Homo sapiens: one gene and its partners. The protein of the gene in region 3 purifies or fractionates together with the protein of the main gene of each other region. This does not show direct contact. Each region holds a gene or a part of one and is shown on either strand. Other genes may lie near its edges.

Evidence for each region.
Region 1: the proteins of MMP26 (region 3) and PTPRK purify together in Homo sapiens (affinity purification with mass spectrometry; 2 studies listed by BioGRID and IntAct, with this or other methods). This does not show direct contact.
Region 2: the proteins of MMP26 (region 3) and ZNF146 purify together in Homo sapiens (affinity purification with mass spectrometry; 2 studies listed by BioGRID and IntAct, with this or other methods). This does not show direct contact.
Region 4: the proteins of MMP26 (region 3) and SLC25A20 purify together in Homo sapiens (affinity purification with mass spectrometry; 2 studies listed by BioGRID and IntAct, with this or other methods). This does not show direct contact.

Annotation. Positions count from the first base shown.
Region 1 is NC_000006.12:127,971,577-127,978,611, forward strand, and holds part of PTPRK (receptor-type tyrosine-protein phosphatase kappa isoform b precursor), read right to left. Parts: intron 5,479-7,035; coding exon 5,347-5,478; intron 5,207-5,346; coding exon 5,081-5,206; intron 2,252-5,080; coding exon 2,088-2,251; intron 1,582-2,087; coding exon 1,446-1,581; intron 1-1,445. UniProt on the Homo sapiens protein: Regulation of processes involving cell contact and adhesion such as growth control, tumor invasion, and metastasis. Negative regulator of EGFR signaling pathway. Forms complexes with beta-catenin and gamma-catenin/plakoglobin.
Region 2 is NC_000019.10:36,218,080-36,225,114, reverse strand, and holds part of ZNF146 (zinc finger protein OZF), read right to left. Parts: intron 6,994-7,035; 5' UTR 6,920-6,993; intron 1-6,919.
Region 3 is NC_000011.10:4,707,755-4,714,789, forward strand, and holds part of MMP26 (matrix metalloproteinase-26 isoform 1 preproprotein), read left to right. Parts: intron 1-7,035. UniProt on the Homo sapiens protein: May hydrolyze collagen type IV, fibronectin, fibrinogen, beta-casein, type I gelatin and alpha-1 proteinase inhibitor. Is also able to activate progelatinase B.
Region 4 is NC_000003.12:48,856,403-48,860,894, forward strand, and holds the end of SLC25A20 (mitochondrial carnitine/acylcarnitine carrier protein), read right to left. Parts: intron 3,226-4,492; coding exon 3,153-3,225; intron 2,800-3,152; coding exon 2,690-2,799; intron 2,230-2,689; coding exon 2,105-2,229; intron 1,371-2,104; coding exon 1,308-1,370; 3' UTR 524-1,307; downstream 1-523. UniProt on the Homo sapiens protein: Mediates the electroneutral exchange of acylcarnitines (O-acyl-(R)-carnitine or L-acylcarnitine) of different acyl chain lengths (ranging from O-acetyl-(R)-carnitine to long-chain O-acyl-(R)-carnitines) with free carnitine ((R)-carnitine or L-carnitine) across the mitochondrial inner membrane, via a ping-pong mechanism.

The DNA of each region.
Region 1 (7,035 bases), on a different chromosome or scaffold from region 3:
CAACTCCACAGCTCACTAAACTAATCATCAACACTGATTAAACACAAATCAGAGGGTGGGGTGTTCAGGATTCACGGGACATGAATGTAAAGGAAAATAGTAACTTTTTGGAAGGTCCCAGAATGGCACAGTTTAACCATAGATTTTTTTTTTAATTAAAAAAGGTGGGAAATCAGTTAAATTTGAAGGTAAAAGTTGAATTCTGAAGTCAGAAATGATCCCACTGATGATTTTAAGACTTGACCTGAAAAATGGAGGCAGAGTTTACATCAAGAAATCTTCAAATCGCAAAGTTTAGAGACATAACCACTATTCATTTAGTTGCTAAGACGATCTGAGAGTTCTCCCTCAAAAATCCCTCCGATTCATCCCCCCTTTCTCATCTCCATAGCCAGCACCCCAATCAAAACCAATGTAATCTTGTGTAGACAGCTGCAACAACCCAGGGAAATGAGGTGGTGTAGGGAGTTTGAGGACACCTGTAGAAAGGGTGGAAGTCTGGTACCGCTTGTAAAAGTGAAACAGTACAAACCTAAGTCTTCAGATTTTGTCTCAGGAAGCAACGCAACTCTTGTGCGAGCAATCCATGAGCAGGAAGTGGTGAAATACTTTAAAGGTTTATTGAATTGCTCATTCTAGTTATCTGATCATCTTGATAAATGTAGGGCAAGCAACAATGATGCCTTGGTTTTTCTGGTTTACTTTTCTGTGAGCATACACTACACAGCTGCTCCCAACCTGATCCCACCATGCACATACATATGTGTAACCCACAGATATCTCTCGTTAGAAGTAAAATGTGTTAGATAAGTGTAACTTTCTTTCTTACTCTGCATACAGCTTCACCTAGATGAACTGTCACACACACACATACCTATCAGCTCTTATTTTGTAAGCTATGTTCTGACTTTACGAGCCTTGACAAGCTCAAGTAGCATGATATGAACTGCCCTCTACAGTTGGTAAAAGCTGAAAACTTAACCATGATAGTTTAACCATTTACAATTTGATCAGAAAATGAATGAATAATTATAGATAATGACAAAACTAAATTTCATTGCCTTTTAAAAATACTGGGTGTCTAAGGTACTGATGAAACCTATATCCCTTAGACATACAGCCTTGATATAGGATTTATTCTTCTTATAGGACCATTTACCAAAGTTTACTGCAGCAAATATTTTTTGGCTATAACAGAAAAAAAATCCTACAAATTTCCCAAATTAAATGAAAATAGTTTCATGATTAGCAGTTTATGCAATACGTGATTAAGTGTCTGTGGGTAGAGGGGGATGCTCAGCAATGTATTAATTAGGCAGGAAAGTCCCCACAACGTCTCATTTTCACATCTGATTCCCTATGTGTGTATGAAGTCAAATCAATAAGTAGGTATATGACTAACTAATCTCTAAGATGCCTTCCAAATCTAAGATTCTGTGACTCACCGGGGCTTCCACCATGTTTGGCTTGCTGTTCCTCAGTGTCTTTACTGCATGGAAAACATCGACAACATTTTGCCGTTTCACCATTTCAACAACGATGCCTATAGCACAGAACATGCCACTTCGCCCGCCACCATTTCTGAAAGCAAAGAAAGCAAAGGCATTTTAGATAGCAGCACCAAGTGACCACAGGTCACACCATCATATATGTTTGGGAAAATAAGACATTGTAGTTTTAATTGTTTTCCATTTGTGTCTTAATTTTGCTTTATATGTGTACAAGGCAGAGAGGAGAAAACTTGAGGATGAAATTAGATCAGTAGCTTATACTCAGGAAAATGCTATAGGCATAGATTGCTGCAATCTAGACTTTGAGATTCTGATATATTTGTAAACTGTGTAAATCAGAAGTTGTTACGAGTAGTGTTCCAAAGAGTTTAAATAATATAGCTATATAATAATCAATATTTAGAAAATATACAAAATAAACTTAGTAGTTAATTATAGACTCATGAGACAGGAAGACTGTTTAAAAATAACATCTATGGGAGGTCCATAAGATGCAAGCCAGATAGTCTTTAACATTGAAAATGAGAAAATAAGCACCAAGGCCCCATGAATGACAGGCTGAGCTGCCCTACTCACAGGCAGTGGATAATCGTCCGGCCTTCCCCTTCCTCGCATTCCTCCTGCCACTTTTCCACCTGAAGTATCAGTTTCAAGAATGACCTTTTGGATCCAGGCACTTCTCGATGAGAAGCCCATCCTAGGTACTGAAACTGTTGCACCATCAGATAACCTTCCTGTGGCTGTAGAGGGAAGTGTTTTTATGTAAATACGCTGGGACTACAATTTTTACTAAAAAGTAAAAGGTGCATATAATTTACAATACAAATGGCATCTACACTGGATTGAGTCTAGCTGATATAAATCCTCAATATGTACATGCTAGTAAAAAAACATTCTAAGTGACAACAGCAGGAAACATGGCAATCATCCTTTATACCTGTTTCTCCCTCGCACTATGTATCCAGTAATTCATTACTACGATTACATTTCCTAAATAACTTTCAGATTCATTGCCTTCTCTTTATCACCACTGACATCAATACACTACTAGTCACAGGTTCTGATAATTACCTCCTAGCTGATCTCCCTGAATAAACTTTGATCTCCTTCCAGTCCATTCTTACTATAGGCATCATGATTATTTTGAACTGCAGATACAATCTTGTCATTTCCTGCTTTAATGATTTTCAAATGATCTTAGCATAAAATCCAAATTGTTGTCATGGCTTAAAAAAACTTATGTGATCTGGCTCCACCCCCTTCTTCAACCTTCTCTTTGTCTTCTTTTAATCCATATATCAAGTCTCTTCTTGCCTTGGGGACTTTGCATATACTGTATGTACCCTTTGCCTTGAATACTTCTTCCTTGCTTGGTCTTCTCAATCCCAAATAGAATGACCAACTTGTCCCAGGTTGGCCTGGGACTTCTCTGGTCTTAGCACTGAAGGCTGTGTGTCTTGGGAAAGCTCCTGCCCTGGGCAAACCAGGATGGTGGGTTACATCAACCCCCAACTAATTTCTATTGATTCATTAAATTTTGGCTTAAATACTACTATCGCAAAGAGGTCATCTCTGATCACACAGTTATGTCAGATCACCCAGTTAAACACTCTATATTCTTTACTCTTTCACTGTAAAATGCATCACTTTTATACAAAAAGGATTATACAATTTTCATGTAATGCTTTTCTTCCTGAAAAAAATAAAGATTCCTTAAGTACACGGAAATCTTTTTTTCCTACACTCTGTATCAGTAGAACTTTGCATAATACTTCCCCAAAAGTAGTAGTGTTGAAAGAATGAATCAAAACCTTAAACCTTGAAATAAAAATATCAGGAAGAATATGTAATATATGAGTAAATCATATCAGATTGGCAAGAGCCCATGCATCTTTTGGTAGATTACAAGCCCTACTTAGTACTCTACAAACTTGTTGGTACATGTTAAATGTTTGATGCAGTTAAATATATTAAATATATTAAATGATGAGAGTGAGAACAGAAAAAAAATCATGTACTAATAAGGACCAGAATACCAAATACAGAGGCAGTTCAATAAGTAAGCAAACAAATAAATAAATATGCTGACAAAAATATAACATTTCAGTTCCTGTTCCTAGAATATTTTTCACATAAACTGCTCAATTAACAGACAAGCCTTACTGTCTTCAGCAGTTCTGTTTTTTTCCAACTCAAATATTACTAGAACCATAATGTAACAGATGTGCAGACATAATGAGATTCCATTTAAATTAACATCTAAGATATGCATGAATATTATGAGATGATTGAAGTTATCCTTTTTTTCTCCACTGAAATGAGCAATAGGAGTCGATATGATTCCATTCCCTGCTCATAGTTATATACATATAGACTTATTAACCAGACACACACGTAGTCATTTTGATATGAGAGACACTGAAACATGATAATCCTAATCACACACTTAAAATACATACCCACAGAGCTGGTGCTTTAAAAAACAGAGTAATGTTTCTCTCTAAAAAGAGCTTAATTTCATGAAAGTTACTAATGTTTTCTTTTCCAATTCTGCTTGTTATTTGGTTACATAATCTAAATTGTTTTTATTAATATCTTTTTTTGGGGGACGAAGTCTCGCTCTATACAGCCTGGGGTGCAGTGGCGTGATCTCAGCTCACTACAACTTCTGCCTCCCGGGTTCAAATGATTCTGCTGCCTCAGCCTCCCCACTAGCTGGGACTACAGGCATGCCACCACCATGTCCAGCTAATTTTTGTATTTTTAGTAGAGATGGGGTTTCACCACGTTGCCAGGCTGGTCTTGAACTCCTGACCTTATGATCTGCCCGCCTTGGCCTCCCAAAGTGCTGGAATTACAGGCATGAGGCACTGTGCCCGGGCTTTATTAGCACTTTTTTTTTTAAGATCTTCCCCACCCACATTGAATTTGTCATGTAGTGGAAAGCAAATGAGGAGTCAGAGAAAGACGATACAGTTACTACTTTGCTGCTGGGAAAAGGCATGGTGGTAGCAGCACTGGTTCTACCTTTAGATCTGCTTAGAGCCATAGGTTGAGACGTTTAGGAAGATGAAATTGCAGGTAGGATAATCAATAATGAACTTGGAACAGTGACATGGAACCCTTCTATAATGGTTGATCCAACATGTCTCTTTCCTCCTGCAGTACAGTTTCTCTGTCATTATTGTTATTGCAATGTTCTTATTTTTTTTATCACATGCCATTTCTGGGCTGGATGTCAATACTAATAAAACATGCAGTCATCCTTAAGATAAGTCTACATACACTCAGAGGCCAGGCCTAGGCTGTCCAACTTGACTGAGCCAGTGCATCTGTATTTCCTGAGAGAATATGCTAGTCTAGTGACTGACCGAAAAACCTAGCTTCCAGCATTTCTGTTTTCCTGTATTTTTATTCGAGTACTAAGGCATAAGATGGTTACTAGCTTTGAGGTGGATGATATAGTGCTTATTAATTGTAGTCTCCCTGTTGTCTGAATAAAATTATACCACATCTTGGTTATGACTGACCTATTCTAGATCAGCTCAAAGGATCCGATAGTGACTTACTCTTGTTAGATTGCATATCCTAAAAATCCGGTTGATCACATCACAGTCCATTGAACAAGACATACATTCCACTTGGATGGGGCCATATCGTAGCATCCCTTCCTCTGGCCAGTACTGAGGGCAGCCCTAAATGATGAACGTTTTGAAAGAAAAAAAAAAAGAGTATTATTTTTTCTAGTTAGGAGAGTATAAAGCAGATTTTAGCAATTCATTACTACTCTATTAAGTTGTATATAAGTACATAAAAGCAATCCATAGCCATTAACCTGGGACAAGTCGACTTCGTTTAACATCACAATGGAGGTACAGCCATAATCATACACTAATCTCCAGAAGTCTTTTACAGTGTTTGGCAGAGGGTATTGTGTGACGATGAAAGCAGCTGGTTGCCTGTAGCTCTGTGAAGAAACAAGGTAGATGGAGAAATATAAAAACTTAAAATGTATGATCGGTTGTACAAACAGATACAATACACTTCAATGTAGGACCAGTAAGATGCAATAGCTTCATATGCAGAAGGAGCCAGAGTGATGATTAAACCATGGAATAGGAGATTCAGACCACTGGAATGAACTGAATTAGTACAGTAATGAATCAATTTGGTGGAAGACTTCAATGCTTCCAAAGCAATTCAAGTCAATAACTGAGTTTTTACTTTACTGAAAGACGTAAATACAGGACAAATACAAAAGAAGAAACTAAAAAGCTTCTGAGGTTAACATCCTCTGTAAGGTTCCTGTTGGGCTATTTCAATTTTCCAAACGTAATCAGTCTCTGAGAGGCTGAAGGCAAAGTAAGCACAAAACCCCTGGTATGTCTATCAATCATCTGGGTATGTGTATAGTGTGTGTGCGTGCAAGTAAAATTGTTTTACTCTTCTCCACTCCAAATAAGAAAAACCACAAGTAGCTCAAACACTTGTGCTTTTACATTATGTGGACACTACCAGGATATTCTGCACATCTTGCAGACAATCCACCTTCCACAGCTTCCTGGGCATTTCTAACATATATCAAAGGTCATAATGACAGTCTCAACCATTTAAGATCCTGAAGCACCAAAGCATAACAGCAATATATTTCCTGTCCCCACATAAGCGGGGAGATAGCTCCTTGTTAACCAAGTCCTCCTTGATTAGAACACAATATATTATCTCTTTCCAAAGGGAGAAGTAGTAAAAACAATATTTATCTGGACTGGACAATTGCCATTTGATTTAAACTAATTATTTGCAATAATAATAATAATAATTAGTAGATTATAGAGTTCCCTAATGCTGACAAAAATTTTCAATGATCTTGTAACTCATTTGTATCATACTACTATTTAAGTCCTTCAAGAATCTTAACATCAGCACAGGAACTGGTTCTTGGACTTCACTGATGCTACCACCATTTGGGAAATGCTACCAACCATGGCATTCAGCGTTGGCTGAAGACTGCAGGATAAATCTGAGTAGATGACAATAATAATTTACCTGGCTACTTCTAAATGACCTCAAAACCTTACCAAGTTACACGTGCAGCTGGGATGAGTGTCTCCTAAGAAAGGCAGGAAGGTTCATGAGTCATATTGTTTGGCTCTGTGTCCCCACCCAAATCTCACCTAGAATTGTAATAATCCCCACATGTCAAGGGCAGGACCAGGTGGAGATAATTGAATCATGCAGGCAGTTTCCCCCATGCTGTTCTCCAGATAGTGAGTGAGTTCTCATGACATCTGGTGGTTTTATAAGGGGCTTCCCCCTTTGCTTGGCACTCCTTCCCCTTCCTGCCACCATGAGAAGAAGGACGGGTTTGCTTCCCCTTCGGCCATAATTGCAGGGATCCTGAGGCCTCCCCAGCCCTGTGGAACTGTGAGTCAATTAAAACTCTTTCCTTTATAAATTACCCAGTCTCAGGTATGTTTTTATTAGCAGTGTGAGAATGAACTAATACAATGAGAAAAGTTAGAAG
Region 2 (7,035 bases), on a different chromosome or scaffold from region 3:
TTATCTAATGTAAAAACACTGAAAAGCAAATCATGATAATAAAAGTAATAGAAAAACACTGAAGGCATTTCTATTAGATTCTAAACAGACAAGGATGCCTACTGCCTCAATTATATAATCTAATTACAAATAACTAAGGAAAGCAGGGAATAATATTAGTATGTAGAAATCAACAGCTTCATATATGCCAACAATGACTCCATTCATAGCAACATAAAACAAAACATCCAGAAATAAACTTAGTAAGAAGTGTCCAAACCTGTATGAAAAAAATTTTAAAACACCCTAGAGGACCCAAAAAGAAACGAGAATACGTATCACGTACATAAAGAGGAATATTTAATGTCATAAAAATGTCCCTATTCCCAAGTTATTTTATAAATTTAATGCAATCCCAATAAAAGTAACAAACTAGTTCTACCTTTTCCCCCTCTGGAACGAGACAAGCTAATCCTAAAATTTACAAAGAAAAATAAACAGGCAAGAATAGCCAGGAAACACTGAAAAGGACGAGCAATTAAGAGACTAGCTATACCACAAAGTAAAACACAATGATAAAGCCTCAATAGTAAAAAGATAAATATTTTCCCTGGTTGTTACACCTGGGCTATAGCAGTGTCCTCAGTCTTTCTGCTCACACCCAGAAACAGACCAAATAAATGTGAGAATTTAGTATATAATCAAAGTGGCATCCTAAAAATAGTAAACATAAGACCTTTTTTTAATGTGTGTGAGATGGAGTTTGGCTCTTGTTGCCCAGGCTGCAGTGCAGTGGCACAATCTCAGCTCACTGCAACCTCCGCCCTCCTATGTTCAAGCGATTCTCCTGTCTCAGCCTCCGAATAGCTGGGATTCAGGCATGTGCCACCACACCCAGCTAATGTTTTGTATTTTTAGTAGAGACAGGGTTTCTCCATATTGGCCAGGCTGGTCTCGAACTCCTGACCTCAAGTGATCCACCCACCTTGGCCTTGCAAAGTGCTGGGATTGCAGGCGTGAGCCACCGTGCCCAGCCAGGTAAGACCTTTTAATAAATGATGTCAAAGAACGTGGTAGCCAATTGGAAAAAGGTAAAGCTGGATGCATATCTGATAGCATACACCAGGATAAAATCTAAATGGATTATAAATTAAAATAAAAACAAAATCTTAAAAAAACTATTGCTCTGACTTGGGAAGCCAAGGTAGCAGGATCACTTGGGCCCAGGAGTTTGAGACCAGCCTGGGCAACACAGGGAGATCTTATCTCTACAATTTTTTTTTTTTTAAATTAGCGAGGATATGAAGGCTGCAGTCAGCTGTGATCACGCCACTGCACCCCAGCCTGGGTGACAGATCAAGATCCAACTCTAAAACAATCAAACAACAAAAAACTGTAACTTTATAAGAATTTGAAAATATCGGTGAAACTTAAGAGTGGAAAAGTCTGATAACCATAAAAGACTGATGAATCAGCCACGCGCGGTGGCTCACGCCTGTAATCCCAGCACTTTGGAGGGCCGAGGCGGGCGGATCACGAGGTCAGGAGATCGAGACCATCCTGGCTAACATGGTGAAACCCCGTCTCTACTAAAAATACGAAAAAATTAACCAGGCGTGGTGGCATGCGCCTGTAGTCCCAGCTACTTGGGAGGCTGAGGCAGGAGAATGGCGTGAACCCGGGAGGCGGAGCTTGCAGTGAGCCGAAATCGCACCACTGCATTCCAGCCTGGGGGACGGAGAGATACTCCATCTCAAAAAGAAAAAAATGTAACTAGATTTTTTTTTTTTTTTGAGACGGAGTCTCACTCTGTTGCCCAGGCTAAAGTGCAGTGGTGTGATCTCGTGCACCACAATGACTGGCTAAATTTTTTGTATTTTTAGTAGAGACGGGGTTTCACCATGTTGACCGGGCTAGTCTCAAACTCCTGACCTCAAGTGATCTACCCGCCTCAGCCTCCCAAAGTGCTGGGATTACAGGCGTGAGCCATCGCGCCCAGCCAAAAGTTTTGAAAATAAAAAGAAAACCATAGCAGCATGGTGGTGCACTGCCTGTAGTCCCCGCTACTTGGGAGTCTGAGACTTGCTTGGGCCCAGGGGTTCAAGGCCAGCCTGTGCAACACAGTGAGACTGTGCCTCTAAAAAATACATGAATAAAAAGGTCTTTGGTGTGGTGCGGGGATGTCTCTGTGCTCACCAACCACAGGGGGCTCATTCTAAGCACGGCTATGTAAAAAAAGAAACTATTATTACTAAATTAAAACAAAACCTCTTATTTCTGCAAGATTAAAAAAAAAAGAAACCACTGTGAACAATGTCCAAATGCAAATGAAAACTTCAAAAAAAAAAAAAAAAAAAGCCACCACTCATTTCATACAGGGCTAACCTTTCTAATTTATAAACAGCTCCTCTAAGGAGAAGACACCCCATAGAAAAATGGTGAAAAGGATATGAATAGACAGTTCCTAGATTAATACATACAGGCCTTTAAACATATAAAAAAAAATTCTCATTCATAAGAAGGGATGTAAATGAAACCTACACTGAAGTTCAGATTGTCTCTTATGTCCCTAGCGAAATACCAAATATTCGACACTACACTCATGGTGAGTTTAAGGGGAAGACGCTCTCGCACATGGCTTGTGGGAGTGTAAGTACTTACCCACTGGGCAGCGCCATTTGTATTAATAGCAGTCTAGTTTAGAGCTACTCCTGTGTCAGTATAAAATGGCGCACATAAAAAAATTATTCATTACTGCATTGTTAGCAACAGCAGAAGACTGGAAACAATCCAAATGCTCAACAACGGGATTAACTGAATCAACCATGGTGCATCCAAATAATGACATCTTATTTATACAGCAGCTGAAAAAAAAATTTCTTTTAAAGATTATGATTAAGAAGGAACACCTTGGCTGGGTGCAGTGGCTCACACTTGTAATCCCAACACTTTGGGAAGCCAAGAGAGGAGGACTGCTTGAGCTCAGGAGTTCGAGACCAATCTGGGAAACAGTGAGACCTCATCTCTACAAAAAGTAAAAAAGCCAGGTGTGGTGGAGTGTGCCTGTGGTCCCAGCTACACAGGCGGCTGAGGCAGGAAGATCACTTCAGCCCAGCAGTTGGAGGCTGCAGTATGCCATGTTAACACCATTGCACACCAGCTTGGGTGACAGAGCGAGACTATTTCAAAAAAAAAAAAAAAAAAAAAAGAAAGAAAAAAGGAAGGGCTATCTCTAGGACATACTGTTATTAAAGAAAGTGAGATATAGGGAGGTGCATGTGGTATGCTATCTTTTATGTAAGGTGGAGGGAAACAGGAGTGAAGAGAAATATATAATAGTGACAGAACAAAAAACAAAAAACCCACTTGAAGGATAAACAAGAAGCAAACAAAAAAAAACAAGACATGTTTACATAAGACAAAGAAGAATGTGACTGGGGGAAGGGAGCAGAATGAGATATCTCTGTGAGATAGATCTTTGTTGAATCACAGAAATGCATTACTTACTTCAATAGTAATCAAATTCATTTTTTAAAAAGTAGTGCCTTGGCCAGGCACGGTGGCTCAAGCCTGTAATCCCAGTACTTTGGGAGGCTGATGCGGGTGGATCACGAGGTCAGGAGATCAAGATCATCCTGGCTAACATGGTGAAACCTCGTCTCTACTAAAAATACAAAAAATTAGCCGGGCGTGGTGGCTGACACCTATAGTCCCAGCTACTCGGGAGGCTGAGGCAGAAGAATGGCGTGAACCCGGGAGGCGGAGCTTGCAGTGAGCCGAGATTGCGCCACTGCACTCCAGCCTAGGGGACAGAGTGAGACTCCGTCTCAAAAAAAAAAAAAAAAAAAAAAGCAGTCCCTTAACCTGAAAACAACAAATGAACCCAACTGTATGTTAATTTAGTAACATAATTCCTCAGAAAAACGATTTCAAATGACTTTAGAACAGAGTTCTTTGACTACATACATCTTTAGTGAGATGCATTTTAAAAGCTGGGCTCAGTGGCTCATGCCTGAAATCCCAGCACTTTGGGAGGCCAAGACGAGTAGGAAGTCAGGAGTTCGAGACCAGCCTGGCCAACATGGTGAAACGCTGTCTCTACTAGAAATACAAAAATTAGCTAGGCGTCATGGTGGGCACCTGTAATCCCAGCTACTCAGGAGGCTGAGGCAGGAGAATCGCTGGAACTGGGGAGGCAGATGTTGCAAGTGAGCCAAGATCACACCACTGCACTCTGCCCTGGGCAAAAGAGTAAGACAACATCTCAAAAAAAAAAAAAAGATGCATTTTAAGAACAAAAATAGTTACATATATTAAAGAAAGAATTTTTTAACATGATACAGTATGTTTATGGTTACTACTAGTATCAGCATTGTTACTGAAACCATTTTCTTTATATTGCAGGATAAAGCAAACAAAATAAGTACTTATAACTTGTTTCATATTTTTTACTATAAAATACAACTAGGAGGCCGGGCGCCGTGGCTCACGCCTGTAATCCCAGCGCTTTGGGAGGCCAAGGTGGGCAGATCACCTGAGGTTAGGAGATCGAGACCATCCTGGCTAACACGGTGAAACCCCATCTCTACTAAAAATACAAAAACTTAGCTGGGCGTGGTGGCATGCACCTGTAGTCCCAGCTACTCGGGAGGCTGAAGCAGGAGAATCACTTGAACCCAGGAGGCGGAGATTGCAGTGAGCTGAGATCGTGCCACTGCACTCCAGCCTGGGCGACAGAGCAAGACTCCGTCTCAAAAATAAAATAAAATTAAATTAAAAAAAAGAACTAGGAGCTAAGAAATTAGGTAAAAATACTATACCATTTAAAGTGAATTAGAAATACGAATATGGACTCATGATTTTTAAAAATACATTAAAAATGTATTTTTTAAATGCTCTGCAATTTAAAATGGCCTTAAAACAATGTTACCCCTGGGCAATGAGCACACCCTTGATCTTGTCTCTAATACCATTCTCCAATAAAAGGAACCAGAGCTCCTTGGAGAAATGGTCAATTCCAAGTCTGGGAGGAAGATACAAGCCTGCAGTGCAGGAAAACTTTCCAAGATCAATGATGTCAGCCAAAATGAGACAAGAATGACCTGAAGGGGTATCCACTGGCATCAAAAAGTGCAGCTGATTCTAGAACACGCTAAATATACACAACTTTAGGATGATGTTTAAGAAAGAAAAAGCCAGGGGGAAAAAAAGATACAATTTGATGTAACAATGAAACAAATGTAAAAGGAATGAAAAGACAAGAGAAATTAAGACTATACTTCCAGGGATCATTTCTAGTTTGTTCCCAGAAGTTTCTCTTAACGTATAGACTACTACATTTTTACACAAAACAAACAAACAACAACAACAAAAAAAACAGAAAATCATCACTTTACAATACCTGTAGAAATTTACTCATCCAGCCAAGAATTATGTATTGGTTTTAAAACCATCCACTAAATGACTGATGGAGAATGAACCAAAGTAAACATAACATTTTGGTCAAAGGGAAGTAACAATCACCAGCCATCTGGTATATCTCTCCTAATGGTATGCAATTTGAAGTATGTAAGATCACCTCTGATGTATTCTGGCCAAAAATCAATCACAATTAGAATTAAAAAAAAAATCATCAGAGATTCTGAATTAGAACCATGCAAAAGTAATCATAGAAATCAAAGAACAAATCTTCCAAAGGAGCGGATAATGATGACTTTCTAAAGATAAACATAACTCAAACACAGAAATCTAACTTCCAGCCTGGGCAACATAGTAAGACTCCATCTCTACAAAAAAAGGTTTAAAAATTAGCAGGTCGTGGTGGCACACACCTGTAGTCCCAACCACTGCGGGGGTGGGGCTGAGGTGGGAGGATCTCTTCAGCCCAGGAGGTGGAGGCTGCAATGAGATGTGATCGCACCAGTGCACCCAGCCTGAGCCAGAGTGAGACCCCATCTCAAAAATCAAAAAACAAACCTAACTTCCTGATTCCAGTTAAAAAAGGAAATATCCACAGAAAATTTTAAGTGGCCAGGCGCAGTGGCTCACGCCTGTAATCCCAGCACTTTGGGAGGCCGAGGTGGGCGGATCACGAGGTCAGGAGATGGAGACCATCCTGGCTAACACGGTGAAATCCCGTCTCTACTAAAAATACAAAAAATTAGCCGGACGTGGTGGTGGGCGCCCGTAGTCCCAGCTACTTGGGAGGCTAAGGCTGGAGAATGGCGTGAACCTGGGAGGTGAAGCTTGCAGTGAGCCAAGATAGCACCACTGCACTCCAGCCTGGGCGACAAACCGAGACTCTGTCCCCCCCTCCACCAAAAAAAAAGAAAATTTTAAGTAAAAAAATTAAAATATAGAAATATTAGGCCGGGCGCAGTGGCTCACGCCTGTAATGCCAGGACTTTGGGAGGCTGAGGCAGGTGGATCACAAGGTCAGGAGATCCAGACCATCCTGGCTAACGCGGTGAAACCCCATCTCTACTAAAAATACAAAAACAAAATTAGCCAGGCGTGGTGGCTGGCACCTGTAGTCCCAGCTACTCAGGAGGCTGAGGCGGGAGAATGGCATGAACCAGGGAGGCAGAGCCTGCAGTGAGCCGAGATCAGGCCACTGCACTGCAGCCTGGGCGACAGTGAGACTCCATCAAAAAAAAAAAAGAAATATTAATAACAAAAGTGCATCTACATATCTTATTCTTTCAGAAATTCCTACCAGACACAGGACTATAATATTTTCTGAGGAAGCATTTTTTTTGCAGCTAGTAATAAAAAGTACTAGTATTTAACATTAATCAAGTACTTACTACACACTGGGGACTATTCTTAGAACTTTACATGTATTAACTTCTGGAGCTACACAACCACCCTTTGAATCAAATATTGCTATTATTTCTATACTATGAAATGAGCAACTGAGGCCCAAGGTTTAAGTACCTACCTGAGGTCCCCAAGGTAAAAAGTGGCAGAGGAAGGAGTTAACACAGGAAGTCTGGCTCCTTGGCCTATGTCTTCCTTTAATTTAAAAAAAAAAAAAAAAAAATTAGCTCATGCCTG
Region 3 (7,035 bases):
AGCACTGGGGTTTATCACTATTTTCAGAAGCAGTTCATTCATTCATTTAATAGATACTTTTAGATGCTGTTGTGCTAGCCATTTTTTCTGGCTCTGAGATCGTAGGTCTGAGAAAAAATGGTCCTTATATTTTCCTGGGAGTCATTTTTGCCTTAGTGGCCATGTCTCCTCAGTTTCATTAGAGGACGCTTCTTCTGGTCTTTTCTTTAAATACTGCTGTTCCCCAGCACTCTGTCCTCAGACTTCATTTCCCTTAGATTTATTACTCTAAGATATTTTTCACTGATCCTGTGACTTCAACCATAGACATTAGTTTCACAACTCTCAAGCCCTATTATCAGGGCAGGAGTCATTTTCCCTAGGATGCAGAAGTAGGTACATGTCCCGATTCTCGTATGTAAAGTCACAGGTGAAAAAGTGAAGCTTATCTTCCAACTGAGATCCAAGGCTTGACTCGAAGATCCATAGCTTTTGTTTTGTCTTGCATTGCCTCTCAATTCAAAATTTCCAGCCACTATCTTTCTTTGCGTGTGTGTGAGAACTCAAAGAGGCTTCCTGTATTGAACATTTTTCCTTCTTCTCAAATACCTAGAGAAATGCCCTCTTGAACACACTTCCTGTAACCAGTTATTCTTACTGATGTCTAAGCTCCTGTCTTTTCATTCGGGGGGTTGCAATGAAGATAACTAAGTTAACCTATACTCAAATATTTTCTTTCTCAGGGTCAGACCTTCTTAAAGTAGCAAGTCTAATTCTAATGCACACACTAACACTGTAGGTATTTAATTTTTTTGAGTAAATACATGCATGAGTAAGTAAAAGGGGAACATAAATATGTTAAAAACCAAACATTCTTTCTATAGATAAAAACAGTGTCAGAAAACTTAAGACAAGAAGCAATATACAGAAACATTTTCAATCCTACAGATTTATGGATCTGGGTGAGCATACACTTAGATCTCCAGAGAAAACCTCCTTCCCCCAGCCAATCTATTCTCAATGCCCTTTTGCAGAAATGGAAAATCAAGAAACTTGCTCAGGTAAATACTCCAGTTATTATCCATGACTTTCCAATGAATTCCTTTGTTCTTGTTAAGGTTATTTAAGCCATCTTTTTTCAGGCAGAATATCCTTTGAACATAATCAACTTCTCAATTATTACATGTATAAACAAACCTTTTTTCTACTGTCACCCACTGTGGTCCATTTAGATTTAATTGTTTCTTTCCTGGTACTTAGTTTTATTTATTTATTTTTTTCACTCAACAGCTATTGTGTATTCATTTGATCAGGAGTATTTTACTAGAAAATGTTTAATATTATCTTATTCTCTTACTTTCATTGGGTCACATGGACTTATAAACTTTAATGCACCTTAGGGTTTTTGCCGCAGAAACTGAGAAGTGAAGAAAAGCAGGGTGAATTTCCTGTTGTGTTTCTTATGGCTGTCCGGAAATATCCCATCTGCCCGTGTACATACAGTCATAGAAATGGGAAACATTTTCTATTATTGAAACTAATCTCCTGTTTTATATATGTATATATAAGTATCCTGAAGCCTAGATGTAATATAATGGGAATCTTGCTAAAAACCAGGTTTCTTTACACAATTTAGTGTCTGTGTCCTCTCCTAGTTCATTCAAGAACACATATAAGAAAACAGTAAGTGGCTATGCATTTTCATTGAAGAATAGGATGTGGTTCTCTAGTGATCACAAATTGTATGGTGTATAGAAGAAAGTGAAAATGCTTTTCTTCTCCATTATTACAGGACATAGTTCTTTTCCTCAAAGACATCTGCTTCTTCGCTCATCATGCCATCCTTCAACCAGAGTATTTTCCACCCTGCAGTCTTCTTCCTTACTGGCATCCCTGGCCTTGAAACCCGTCAGATCTGGACCTCCATCCCATTCTGTTGTCTCTATGTCATTGCTATCTCTGGGAATGGCATGATCCTGTTTGTCATCATCACTGAGTCAAGCCTCCATGAACCCATGTATCATTTTCTCTCCATGCTATCCTTCATGGACCTAGGTCTGTGTCTTTCTACATTGACCACCATGCTGGGTATTTTCTGGTTCAATGCTCGAGAAATCAGTTTTGATGCCTGCATTGGCCAAATGTTCTTTATCCATGGCTTCACATTCATGGAGTCCTCAGTACTTTTGGCAATGGCCTTTGACCGCTTTATTGCCGTCTGTAACCCACTGAGATATGCCACAATCTTAACCAATTCACGGATTATTAAAGTGGGCTTTGCAATTGTTCTTAGGGGAACAACAGCTCTAGTGCCTCTACTCCTGCTCCTTAAGCGCCTCTCCTTCTGCCGTAGTCATGTGCTCCACCATTCCTACTGCTTCCACCCTGATGCGATGAAGCTCTCATGCACAGACACATGGATCAACAGTGCATTTGGCCTGGCCATTGTTATCTCTACTGCTGGCTTAGACTCTGTCTTGATCCTCATCTCCTATGTTCTGATCGTCCGCTCTGTGCTCTGCATTGCCTCCCCAGAGGAGCAGAAAAAGGCTTTTGGTACCTGTGTCTCTCACATCAGTGCAGTTGCCATCTTCTACATCCCCATGATCAGTTTGTCACCAGTGCACAGATTTGGAAAGCATGCCCCTCCCCTTGTGCACATGCTCATTGCCAATGTTTATCTGCTTATCCCTCCTGTAATGAATCCCATAATCTACAGTGTAAAGACCAAGTAAATTCGCAAGGCTGTGCTCAAAGCATTTCTTTCTAAGCTAATTTAGGGAAGTTTGAGTGTACTCCTTCTTTACCAAGTCTTCCCTGACCCATGTTTGATCATTCAGTACTGTGAGTTACTGTTGTTTATTGAAACAGCTGGTTTCAACATGCTTTCTTTCTATTCTGATGATCCACTAACTTACCATTTACACAGTTCTAAATGGTGAGTTATTTAAGGGCAGAGATTATGTCGGTACTTCTGATCCTTTCATGAATACTGAACCTAGCACAGTATAGGACCACAGTTAAAATATGTCTGAAAGCATGCACAAGTAAAGTCATACTTGGAGTTTAGGAGTCTCACCACCTCTAGAGCATGTAGCTATCCAAAGTAGATCTCATGTAACGTAGATCAGTAGGCAAAGTCTAGGTTTTAGTAATTCTTACAGTTTATTTGTGATGATTCATTATTCCACCAGACAGATTGTAAATGGCTGAAGAATATGAATAAGCACAATAAGCAAGAAGTATTAATAAAAGGACTACTTTCCTAATTCTTAAAAGAGTACTTGAGGTCACCTTGGTAAATGCATTTGTATTTTAATAGTAGAAGATCTGGGGGTCCATTGTCTAAATATATGTCTAAAGAAGAAAAATGGGCAAGAATGTAAAGATATATTGTGATGTTCAACACATCATTCATTATACATTGCAATGAACATGTGGAAACTGCTTAAATAATTACTTTAGGGTACTGACCTAATAAAACATAAAATACAATGCAACAAGTTAAATACTGATACAAATATAAATTACATTTTGTTAAAAAATATAGGTTAGTATACAAAGTACTTACTTGTGTATATATTTCATGTGAATATGTGTAAATGCACATTAAAAAGTATAAATAGACATATCCCAAACATTACAACAGCTTATATTTGATAGCTGGATATTGTTTTGCTGACATATTCTTTACACTTTCTTGCATTTTATAAATGTTCAATAATGAGGGTTTCTTTTTCTTTTTGGATAATGAAGTAATTTCCACTTAATACCTTCCCACAAAACAAAACTTTTTTAGTTCTTCATCTTACATAAGATCTTCATTCCAGTGGGTCTTCACAGATCTGGCCTCATGCAACCCACTGAATACACTCATAAGATGACATCCACTTTCTACTTGCATCTATCACTTTTCTCAATGTGGTCCAGCATCTGTGCATCCAAACCACTTGACACTTCCGTTTAAAGTGCAGATTCCTCAATTCCGCTCCAGAGCTACTTAAACAGAAGCCCTTGAAATGGAACCCACAAATTTGCATTTTAACAAGACATTTACGGATTATCATGTATGAAAGAGTAACACTTTTCTGGGGTCTATCCACTTTGATGAATTATATATATTTCTGAAAAACACCAGGAATATATTGCCTCTAAGTCTGTGATTATTTTGCTCTCTCTGACTGACATACCCACCTCTTTCTTTTCCTGATTGTTCCATTTATTATTCTTTCAGGTGCTGTTAATAAATCTTTGTCTTACAGGGAGTCAGATTTCTCTTCCCCTACTGATCTGAAACTTTTTGAAAATGGGCATTGGACTTTGGGAATTGATGTATCTCGCACAGATACAAGTGCAGTGCTTTATTAATAATAGCTACTTAATGTATGCTTATTGAATTAAATTTATTTTTATATAACTTCACATATATACTGACATATTTTGAGCATCTTCATTTTGGCAAACACTGTGGAAGGGAGGTACTAGGGATAAAACAGTGAATGGGGAAGGCACAGCCTTCATTCTTAAGGTGTTTAAATCTGACTAAACATATCTAAATTCAAACAATATTTTAATCAGTTTTTACTTACAAACTGTGTACAAAACATTATACCACATGCTAAGAGTAGTCATAGATGGCGGTCTCTCTTTCTCCCAGTAGAAGCCTGAACCAATGGAAAAACAACCAGCCCAGGAAATACTTGACTTAATAAGAAAAATATAGCTCCTAGAAATTTACTGTTTAATAGAGAAAATATAATATGCACTCATTTCTAAGCAATGAAAGCATAAACATAAGTTATTTAAATTTCATATGGATAGGAAAAGTTTTCAAAAATAATTTTGAAGTTGGAGCAACCACATTTTTGGGTGTATCTTAAAATAGATGTACTAAGAATGTTATTGTGAAAGTAACAATTTTGATTCATGCTTTAATAATGTAATTTATGAAGTGTCAATTACAGATAATCTTGTATAGTATAGTTATACGTACCTTAATAAAATCCACTTTGAAGTATATTTATTTTCTCTCTTTATAAAGTAATACTTTATATTTTTTCTTATTTCTAAGTTTTTTTTTCTTTTAATCTTACAGCTTATATCTCTTATTTTTCCCTACTATCTATGTTACACTCTGAATTCAACAACATCCAATACTATGGTCTATACATTTTGCTTTTATTTATAGTCCATCTGAAACAATGGTTGTTTAAAACTGTGAGAACTAATGCTGAAAATAGTAGTCTGGTTAATCTGAAGTAGACTTTGAAAGAGTAGGCGATAGGGTGTTGAGGTTCTGTTTGAGAATGTCTTCTAAATTGACATTTCTATAAACGGATATATCAGAGTTTAGGGGGAAAATGTGATGTTTGTACCATTCAGGTTGATATTGAAACCAAGCAGAAAACTGCAATATATTAGGGATTCTCAAATTAGGTGCCTGACTTCCTCAGCTGCTTCACGTGGAGCTGTAAAAATGCATTTTTCTAGGGAAGAGGAAAGACTAAGTTCCATGCTGTGTTATTTGTATTATGTTATTTAGATTCAAATGACTTAGGATGCATAAAAGATCTTCATGCCTAACATAGATCCTGTCTCCCTATTTAGCTTCATCTCTCCCCCACACTGGCACCCAGGGTTCCAAGTGAGCTGAGTCTGTTATTAGTCACCTTCTGTTCTTCCTACACTCTGTGCTCCATTGTCTCCTGACAGACCTGGTTCTGAGTTTCCTTCAGGATAAACACAACTCTTCTGTACTGTCATCGTAAATATCCCTCATTGTAAACACTGAGTTTTATGTCTGTTTCCACAGGTGGTTCCCTCCAAGGAGCTCTGGAGGGAAAAGACTCTGTTTTATTCTCTGTATTACCAGTACAAAGTCCTAGAATATGAAAGATACTTCAAATGTTCCATGAAAGAATAAATGAAGATTTTTGGGGGGCATAGAGTGAAGCACAAGCAGAGGGGTTTCTAAAAATATATAAAATTCACCTAAATAATATAGGAGGAAGATAAGTTTATCAGTTGGGTGTGGGAGTGGTGTGAAGATGAGGGGCGATCTGGTGGGTTTTTTTGGGAGGGTGTGGTTACTCACAAATTTACTTTTAAGAAAATTTTAACAACACATAAGATCAAAGACCTGTAACAGCAGTCCCTTCATGGAAACTATAAAAGAACATGAAGTAGAAGGAGAAGAAAGCCATGAAGTAGAATGAGCCCTTGGGAAGCTTCATACTCTGGGGGCTGCAGAAATCACCACCAGGAGCTTATTAAGAGCTTTCAGGCATCCTGAGATATGGCTTCAGATATATGCTACTTATTTCTGGGTAGAATACATCCCCAGCTCCTCAGGCTCCTTTCTGGAAAACAGGCAGGAAAGAACACATCCTTATACTTTGTAAGTAAAACTGCTGCATTTACGAAAAACATTACACTTTACACGCCCTGGTTTCTTTTAAGAATGAGGGGGACTTTATTAGCTGCAGAAAGCTCTTGTGGGTGCCTAAGGAAAATTGTGGAAATCTATTTTCTGAAATCTGTATTTTCTAGGAACATTCTATTCTGAGGAGGTTTGATTGGTCTATGAGCCATTTGTTTTGCTGCTTAGAGCAGGTTGTTAATGTGTCCATGCAATTTTAAGTTTCCTGGTTAGTTGTGTCACATTTTATAACTGCCACTGAAGGTCCTAAAGTCAACAGCCACTACCACCGTCACACACACTGCCACTGCCATTCTTATCCTCATCCTCATCTTCATTTACCAATATCACGTGACTTCCACGTCCCACACACTGGTCAGCATATTATATGCTTTGCAATGTTATCTTGTTTAATCCTTACAAAGTAGTGCCATTGGTGAACTACCAGTTTCACCTTAGTGGAATCTGATGTAAAGTGCTTATTTGGAGAACTCCGGCTAGCTCTAGGTGGCAGAGACCAAATTTGAACCTAGGTTTGTATGACGGTATAACAATATCACTTACTCTGTAATCAGAGAAGAGAGATAAGTCAAGGTAGCCCAGGAAATAACTTGAAACACATTCTTACAATGGGCCTG
Region 4 (4,492 bases), on a different chromosome or scaffold from region 3:
AGTAATAATCTAGCTTATGACTCTCCAACTCCCTCACCTTTTCTGGACACACCTGGATAGCATAATCTGCCTGATTAGTAAAGTTAAGCTAGCTACCTCAGATCGCACAGCAACTCCAAAGCCCACATGAAAACCCGAGATTGCTTTTGTCCTTTTAGAACAACTGACTCTCCATCTGTTAGCTCAGACACCCATGGTGCTCAGGGAAGAGAGGGGAATAAATGAAGGGATGGGTTGCAGGCTGGGCCTTGGGAGGGCCTGTCTGCCAGGCTTGCATTGAGGCCTGTGTGAACAATTACCAGTCGGGTCACACCACCCCACACACCCTCCCTAGAGCAGCCGGGGCTAGGGCAGTCAGAGAAGGCAGAGCCAGCCAAAACTTCCTCCTCCTCCACCTCCTCCTGCTGGATCCCCAGCCTAAGGTTCCCAGGGAAGAATACTGGATCCCTGAAAGCCTCCACCAAGGCTACAGGCTGCCTGCTGAAATGTCCCAGAATCAAAAGAAGAAAATATAACACAATGCAAAAATTAGAAACAACGTTTATTGTTTATTGTTAAAATAGTGAGCTCTCATGAGAAAAGAGTATGTAAAAAGGGCCTTCCTACACCCTGGGCTTTCTCACTTATCCCAGCAGACTGGGACTGTCCTCACTGTGTAGGAGGGAAAGTTCTCCACCTGCTCCCAGAAAATTAGGCTACTCCAGTTTTACTTTTGATTATTTGCAGGCATAAAAAAAAAAAATCAAAATCCAACGATTAACAGTCTATCTCCTCCTAGGCATATATGCTCAATCCACTTGGACACAGAGGTGGGCCTCAAGTCCATATCCACATGTACAGCCCAGGATTAGATGGCACCCTGGAAATCAAATGGGTATTCCTGGCTAGGGACTGAAGAAGATCTCAGCTCCTGGTGATCTGGTTGAAAATATGCACAGTGCCTCCAGTGAGAACCTGAGATTCTCTCTTTAATGAGGAATACTTTGACTGTGGTAGGACCAGCAGTTAACTGGTAGGCAGCATTCTTGCCACAGGTAGTATCTGGTCTGGAAGCTACTTGTTCCATTTCCAAATCCTTTTAAGATCCCTTAAATTGATAAGAATGAATTCAAGTTTCAAAATGACACACTAAGTTATACACGGTGCAGGATGTCATTAAGGCAACAGTCTCACCAAGTCCATGCACAGGGCTCGGATCTCACCATTCCCCTCCCCTTGCCCTCCAAGACTGCTTAGTTCTGCTTACTACTCCTTCTCCTCAACGACAGCTTCCAGCATCCAGAAGTGAACTTGAGCAGCCTTCAGCCTCACAAGTTGGGGGTGGCCCAATTAAGGAACTTCATGGCAACTTCAAAGCCAAGGAAACAGGCCTAAGAAGGGATTGGGAGGAAGAAAAAAGCCAGCAGGAATAACTATTCATAGACTATTCAAAGCACTATGCTTTGCTGGCCCTGTCAGGACCAGAGCCCCTCCCTAACCCCACACCCACTCCACATCAAGGATGCAAGCTCTACTCTCTCATTTTTAAGAGGAGAAGAAAATTTATATTCCACAACTGCCCACTTCTTTTTTTTTTTTTTTTGAGATGGAGTTTTGCTCTTGTCACCCAGGTTGAAGTGCAATGGTACAATCTCGGCTCACTGCAATCTCTGCCTCCCAGGTTAAAGTAATTCTCCTGCCTCAGCCTCCTGAGTAGCTGGGATTACAGGCACCCGCCACCACGCCCAGCTAATTTTTGTATTTTTAGTAGAGGCGGTGTTTCCCCATGTTGGCCAAGCTGGTCTCAAACTCCTGACCTCAGATGATCCACCTGCCTTAGCCTCCCAAAGTGCTGGGATTACAGGCACTAGCCACCATGCCTGGCCTCACAACTGCCCACTTCTAATGGCCAGGTCAGGAAATCAAAGCCCCTCACCTCAGAGATCCCCAAAGGCAAATCCTCCTGACAGCTTCAAGGAAGGGAGCAAATAAGGAATGCTCTGGCTGAAGATAGGGCTTTGGGAAAACTGAGACCCCAGTCCTATCCCAGGAACAAGCAAAAGTCAAACCACATGCACCCTGCCCTGAGCCCCAGAGGGAAAGCACAGCCCTGCCAGCTACTCACCGCATTGGCTGGGAAGGCTCGGATCATCACTGCATTGAACCCTTTGTACAAGGATGTGACTCCTTCATCCCGGATCAGCTCCCTCAGCACATCTCTGAAACCATTAGGATATTTCCCAGGAGGTGCTGTGGGGCAGAACCCAATTTTTAAGGCTTCAGGAAGGAGAAACTAGCAGTTAAGTCTTCCTGAAGGGTCAGGACTAGCACAGGGAAAGGACACCTTGCAGGTCATGTGGGACCAGTCCATAGACAACAGTTCACCTTGGGACAAATGCACAAATGCCTGAATTACTTGTGCCAAGGGAATAGAAACGAGGGAAGAAGAATGAAACAGCCCTTCTGTTCATGTGGGGGAGGAAGAGTGGACTTGACTTCTTATCACACTTACCTTGTGTTTAGGCTGTCATGAAAATGAATCTAGGGTTCCTAGAATGCAAATGACTGTGAGGGAGAATATTGGTCAGGCAGATGCTAGGTGCTGCCATGGAGAGTGAGTATCCCTAGGGCCTTATGAGCTTTGCACCCCAGGATTAGCCAGTGCTGGGGACCCACTCTCCCCCTGTCCACCCCACTACCTTCCACTCACCAGTCTGGAATCGAGACTTGAGCACATCTGGGGGGATTGCCACAGCCCAGTTGAAGATCCCTGCAATGCCCCCAGCCACCAAGATCCGAGGGGCACTGAGCTCACTGACCCTGTATAACACCAACCACAGCCCCAGTTAGACAAAGGCTGTGAGAGTGGCATTCAGACTATCCTGCCTGTGGCAGACAGGGCAGTTACAGACAGGCAGAAACTGGTTGGAGGGAGGAGGTATAAGGCCAGTGCTGCTGGCACTCCTTGGAGAAGGTTTCATGCACCTGTTTCAAATATTTGCTCCACTGGCTGAGGCACAGAGTAAGAAGAGCTAGCTGGACCTCAGCAGCCACAAGAGGAAAGCAGACATGGAGCCAGGAACAACAACTACTTCTGCTTTCAGATTCACCCACAGGAGAGGGCAACGCACCCATGACTGGGGAAAGTGGCTTCCAAGTTATGTTTTCCTCACCTCTTTCCCTCCGGAGTGAAGATATTTTTCAGCCATTCATATGTCATGAAATACATTCCACTAGCTGGGACATCTGTTAGTGGCAAGAAAAAGGTGAATTAAAGTACATAAACTCTTCGCCAGGCATGGTGGTACACACCTGTAATCTCAGCAATTTAGGAGATTGAGGCAGGGGGATTGCTTGAGGCCAGGAGGTCCGCGCTTGGCCTGAATTATTAGTAAAATTGTTTTTTAATTGGGTGACCAGATTTGGTTCAATTTATTTGCTTTCTAAACATTAGCGTATGGTAGTAATTTATGTAGACTAAAAAAGCATTAAAAAGAAAAAAATGCCAGGCATGGTAGCTCATAACTGTAATCCGAGCACTTTGGGAGGCTGAGGCAGGCACATCACCTGAGGCCAGGAATTCGAGACCAGTCTGGCCAATATGGCGAAAGCCTCGTCTCTACTAAAAATATAAAAATGGGCCGGGCATAGTGGCTCATGCCTTTAATCCCAGCACTTCGGGAGGCCGAGGCGGGCGGATCACAAGGTCAGGAGTTTGAGACCAGCCTGACCAACATGGTGAAACCCCGTCTCTACTAAAAATATAAAAATTAGCCAGGCGTGGTGGCGGGCACCTGTAATCCCAGCTACTCAGGAGGCTGAGGCAAGAGAATGGCTTGAACCCGGGAGGTGGAGGTTGCAGTGAGCTGAGACTGCGCCACTGCACTCCAGCCTGGCTGACAGAGTGAGACTCCATCTCAAAAAAAAAAAAAAATACAAAAATACAAAAATGGCCAAGCGTGGTGGCTCACACCTGTAATCCCAGCACTTTGGGAGTCCGAGGTGGGCGGATCACGAGGTCAAGAGATTGAGACTATCCTGGCCAACATGGTGAAACCCTGTCTCTACCAAAAATTAGCCGGGCATGGTGGTGCATGCCTGTAGTCCCAGCTACTCAGGAGACTGAGGCAGGAGAATCGCTTGAATCCAGGAGGTGGAGGTTGCAGTAAGCTGAGATCGAGTCACTGCACTCCAGCCTGGTGACAGAGCAAGACTCCATCTCAAAAAAAAATAATAATAATACAAAAAATACAAAAATTAGCCCGGCCTGGTGGCACATGCCTGTAATCCCAGCTATTCAGGAGGCTGAGGCACAGGAATCACTCGAACCCAGAAGGTGGAGGTTGCAGTAAGCCAAGATCACACTAATGCACTCCTGGCTGGGCAACAGAGCAAGACTCTGTCTCAAAAAAAAAAGAAAAAGAATATAGTATTATTATTATTATTACTTTACTTTTTTTTTTTTTTTTTGAGACGGAGTCTCGCTCTCTCGCCCAGGCTGGAGTGCAATGGT